Regions from separate parts of the Homo sapiens genome. Here region 1 is linked to region 2. Evidence: fine-mapped expression QTL. Tissue or cell type: whole blood. Region 2 holds a variant in brackets; the other region holds the start of a gene. All regions are shown on one strand. Distances are from middle to middle.

Region 1 (2,685 bases), 220 kb after region 2:
TGTACAGATATAATACATAATATCCCTGAAGTAATTTATAATACTTTCAACTGGAGAAATAAAGAAAAAATACAAGATTCAACAAAATGTCAAGATTGGGATTAATGGGGCGATTATAAGTTTGTTGAATTATTAACCAACAAGGCCAGAAAATCAATGTGCTGTCCTAAATATGGTTTGTTGCATTACTCTCAAAAGGTTAAGAAGACACTGGCCTGGTGTTAACAGGGGCCTTGAATTGAACATATTGCATTTTTCTTTATCGGTATGCTCCGATAAAGAAAATGTTTTTATGGGTATGAGGAGCATACCCATAAAAAAAATGCAATAGTACCTACAACTCTTTCGGGAACTGACTGTTTTGAAAAAATAACAGTCAGCTGCCTTTTACGGGGGTTGGTGGGGAGGTAATTATCTAAATATAAGGTGGCAAGTGAAAACTAGTTACCTAAGAAATTGCATTACTTAAGAGAAGTCGCCAAGGTTCACTACATCACATCTTTCAAATCTTAAATGAGCACCTTTCCTCACATTATCCCTTTGTCGGAAGCAATTTCTCTTTACAACTATTCTGGCTACCTCAGACCTCCATCCAAAATTCTCCTGAATCCTTCATTATCGACAAAGCCTGGAGCAGAACGCAAGCATTCCTTTCTGAAAGCACACATACTTACTGATCACTGCTTTCCAAAAATGCATCTAATGCCCAAGCATGAAATTACAAGCTTGTTCTCTTATGTCTCAGCCATGAAAACAAAGACCGTTCTTCTCATCCAATTCAAATGGCGGGAGGAACCTTCAATTAATTCTAAATCAGGAAGGAACCTCCCCATCTCACTTCCTAAATGTTTGTAAAAGATGTCTTCTTCAGCCAACCTCCTGCCTTCCAGGCACGGCACCCCAGAACTACGGAAACAGTACTCAGGAATCAAGAGTGGCCAAACGCTGCCAATGGGAGATAGGAAACTCGTTGATCATTGGTAGAGAAACTCGGCACAACGCCGAGTCACGGTACACGGTGTCTTCGGCCTCGCCCAGGGACACTTGGTGACCCGAGGTCGAGTTCCAAGTCGGAGACAGATTTTGCGAGTGGATAAGACGGTAAGCCGGGATCCCAGGGCCTTCTCCAGCTGCACTGGGTGTCAAGCGCCACGGGGTTTGATGGGGACTCCTTCTGGTTCCACCCTCGCCCACTCACTTCTCGGGCTGGCCATAATGCTGCACAGAGCCCCGGCCAGCCATTAATATCAGGCGCAGGAGAAAACCCAGTAAAATCACTTACCAGTCTTCCACCTCCGGTGCTGATCTAGCAAGAGCCTGACCCGCTGGCCAGACTCAAGCTCTGCACCAGGTATTACCACCCTGGCGACGGCTCCGGAGCGTCACTGACAACCACCCGGAAATGGTACTATCGCTTCCGGGGCTGCCTAGCGCGCGGCGGGAAATTGTTTCCCAGAGCCCGGATTCGTGAAGCAGTTGAGTGCTGCAGCGGCAGTCGTCGCCCCTGCCGCCGCTGCCACCGAAGGAAGCATCCCAGACACCGGGAAGGTAAAGGGGCTCAGCTAGGAAGACACAGTGTATTCTGTCTCTGTGGGGATGTTTCTTCGCCGGGCGGTACCTCCGAAGTTTCTGCCTCCCGGCTGTGAGGCTAGGAAGGAAGCGGCTGGGGTGAGCGGCAGCGGTGTCTGGCTCTCGCGCTTTCTCCAGCTGCAGTTCGTTCCAGCTCTCCCGACTTCGCGCTCGGCGCCGGAGTTGGTGGGCTGCAGCTGCAGACCCCGCGACGCTTCGCCCGTGCCGCTGCGGGGACTGCCACCGAGCGCCCCTCTGCAGTACTGGGCTGAGCCACTTCCCCCGCTTCTGCTTGCGCAGCTCTGCCGCTCGGCCCGCCGCCTGGAAGGCGCTAGGCCCCCCGCGTCTCTCGTTTCCATAGAACCCATGGGGACGCCTCATCCTGATACCAGAATTTTGGCTGCTTTCCATAACTTAGCGTCTGCGAAGGTGGCTGGGATACCCCAGGCCCACTTTCCTGTGACGAAGAAAATTGTGTCATTCTTTCCTCTCTAGTAGAATTTTTTTTTTTTAAACTGCTAAAACGGCAGTGATCCTATCTCTGACTGCTATAGGCCTTTAAACACAAACATACACACATACACTTTTCGCTGAAGGGAGGGTCTGTGTTCCTGGGGTTTATATTTCAGCTGCCTGAAGGCTGGAAACAAGACTGAGTGGCTATTTTAAGATTTCTTCCACTTCCAAAGCCTCAGATTAAATATTGACAAAAAAAAAATTGGTCCGTCTCGGGTACTTCATATCATTATTTGACTCAGGAGTTAGATGGAGCTTGATTTTGGAGGCGCCAGCCTCTTTTTTGACGAATGACTTTATTAAAAAATTTTGTTGTTGTTGTTGAAATATTGGGAATGAACATTTGAACTGAATTTACAATGTATGTGTGACAGACAATGCACCTTGTGGACTTTTTGGTTTATGTTATTCCGTTGTGCCTCAATTCTTGGAAATACCTGTGGATGTGCAAGATGTTCTCATTATTGGAAAGTTTGATTACGTATATTGCAGGTGTTCAATACCTAAGTTGCTAGTATGAGGTGAATTTATATTAAAGAGTATATTTCTTTATTTTCTTTTCTTACCTTTCCTTCCTTCCTTTGCTTTCTTTCTTTCTTT
Region 2 (2,685 bases):
ATATGAAGTCTTATAGATTAACATAGACAAGTAAACATTATTAGTTACCTTAATACTAACCAGTGAATGCAATATATTTTAATAGAGTTTATACATAATAATGCCTATCAGTTCCAAGCTTGATGCTAAGAACTCCATGAATGTTATTTAATTTTTCAAAACAATTCTGTCAGTGTGGTATCATCATTGAAACTGAGGCTTTGAGCGATTCAATAACTTGCACAAGATGACCCATTTACAAGGGATTTGTACTCGCCCATCTGACTCCAAAGCCTGATCTCTTTATCACTACCATGTACTAGTAAGAGTAACCATATTTCAAGTGACTTTTAGTCATTTTGGGCAGAAAGTTATACTAGTATCTGCTAGCAACATGAATATATTTTTAAAGAATGAGGGACAGCATGTGTCGGTGTTTTTAAAATGGGCTGACAGTGATCTGTAGACCATGTGAGCTGGAATTCCTTTATCAATACCATGCAATTCTATACCTGAAGACTAATTTAAAGACAGGAGGACTCTATGTACATATTTCAACTCATCAGGGACCCTTAAAAATCTTTGCAGTACCACAAATCACTTAGCTCTTAGTGACAAACCCATGAGAAGGCTGACATTTTCATACAGAAACAGCTGGGTGTGTTTATAGCTGGAGTGTGATATGCCCTAGTTGCCCTCTGGGATTCTTACATTACCAGATGAAAAATGTGTACCTTTTTGACAATCAGGTACACAGAAAGCAATAAAAAGCCTTTTATATCCGTTAATTCCTTCTTAATTTAATCTCCATGCCCAATCCATTTACAAAATGCTCCAGGCTATCCACTAGATACCTGTTTGCACACTGAAAAGGGGTGAAACTAAATTCTCCTGGGTTTAACTACCACCCTTTTAATCAGAAACCTTAAGATGGTGACTAAACAAGTATAATGTTCCAGTGTGTCAATGGGGTTCACATTTTAAGAAGACAAGAAATGTGCAACAATCCAATTTTTAATGGGATACTTATCTTTTTTTATATTCATCAAAGCTGCCATGAATTTAGCAAAATACTACTGCTGCCCATCTGACAATATATTGTCATTTATTGGTGATTTTGTTATTGTGAAAGCATTTGATGAAATCCAATAAGAGAAAAACATCACTTTACCATTCAGTGCTCAGTTTCCTTGCTTTCAACAATTGACGTTCAATCCAGTTGGGCTTCTGCTGCTCAATGCTCTGTATGACCTTTTGGATCATTTGATTATGGATACTTGTCTGGTCTCCCATGATGCTTTTCAAACACATACAAATTAAACCCAATTTTTCTTTACTCCATCTGTCAAG[A/G]GAGGCACCTGTTAAAAGTTCCACAGTGTTTCCGTCCTCAAATATCCGACATATAATTACAATCAAGTTCCAGACAAGCAGGCCAGCTTTCTTCAATTCAACAAATTTTTTTGACATTTTTCTCTCAGACAGAAAAAAGAAGTATTTAACTGGGGGAGGCAAACATGCAATCACCGTAGGTAACTTGCTGATTACAATAGATACTGCCTGAGCAGTAAGCCTTGTGAAGCCTGGGGAAGAAAAGAAAAGGTATGATTAATATTAGCATTTGCGTTCAATCACTGCATGGTTTTGTGTTGTATAAGGATGTCTAATTTTTGTGGAGAAAATTGGCAAGAAGATCAAGTGCCTGACATATTCCAACAGAACTCTAACCGGGGTCTCTCGCAGTACTACCTAAAATTCCCCCAAATCAAAATCTGTTTTTTTTTTTCTCTCATAAATGATTAGAAAATTTAGACTCATAATTTATATTCTTATCTTTCAAGACTGCAGCTGTCCAGGACCCAGGTGGCCTCCTCATTAACAAATGCAAAGGTGCCCAGCTGGGCAGCTTTGTAGGCTTTGGTACTTCTGACTCCCCCTTAAGCCCTTCTCCTCCTCCCTTGGAATCCATGACAGAATCATTTCAGCTCTCCTCAGGACTGGTTTCTCTCCTTTCAGTTCTCAACCCAAATGTGACCTCCTCAGAGAGCCTTGCCTCACCATCTTATCTCATCTCATCATCTCATCTCAGTCCATTTATACCCTTCCATCACAGCCCCAAGACCCTCTCTTTTGGGGATCCCCATTTTGTTGCCTTTATTATAGCACTCCCCATCATCTAATAATTATGTCCTTTTCCTGCACACTGTCACCCTCTTCTAAACTATAAGCTCTGAGAAGGCATTCCCGTATCCCTAGCACTTATTACCTCTTATATAATAGTTGTCAATAAATATTGGTTGGATGAATGAGTCAGTAAATTGGTTCTTGCTTACCTCCATCTCTCCTCTTTGCTTCTTTGTGTCCTATGCTATTTCCACTTTCTATTAACATCGCTTAGATGTAGGTTTTTGCTAAGAAGTCCTTAGCCTTTTGGCTGATGATTCCACATGTTCTTCCTTGTTTGGTGCTATTTCACATTTATGATCTTATTTAATGCAACAGCCTTAGAAGATTATTCAAATATGTGTTGGACCTAGTTTTTACAAACTTATAAAGACTGTTCCAATTAATTTTTAAATGATTCTCAAGTTGTCATGGATTGCAGAGGAGTCACTAGATTAGACATATTTTCCAAGAAAAATGTATTAATTCTTCTTCTCTGTATCAGGGTTTCTCAACTTTGGGTTGGATGATCCTTTGTTGTGAGGA

What was found. PIP is the estimated chance that this variant, and not a neighbour inherited with it, causes the effect.
Region 1: KIAA0825 starts here. The variant in region 2 is fine-mapped to the expression of KIAA0825 in whole blood (INTERVAL, PIP above 0.99). The same link has a PIP of 0.9 or more in nasal epithelium.

The regions. Positions count from the first base shown.
Region 1 is chr5:94,617,218-94,619,902 of GRCh38, forward strand. It overlaps KIAA0825, which reads right to left and starts at 1,387. Exons shown (of 21, transcript NM_001145678.3): 1 at 1,283-1,387. It overlaps SLF1 (SMC5/6 complex localization factor 1), which reads left to right and starts at 1,452. Exons shown (of 21, transcript NM_032290.4): 1 at 1,452-1,548. RefSeq lists enhancers at 401-1,265, 1,004-1,183, 1,494-1,673, 2,064-2,173.
Region 2 is chr5:94,394,951-94,397,635 of GRCh38, forward strand. KIAA0825 reads right to left here. Exons shown (of 21, transcript NM_001145678.3): 17 at 1,151-1,559. Among named protein-coding and RNA genes, the nearest start is that of KIAA0825, 220 kb to the right of the region's middle. The variant A/G (reference allele first, on the strand shown) is at 1,330.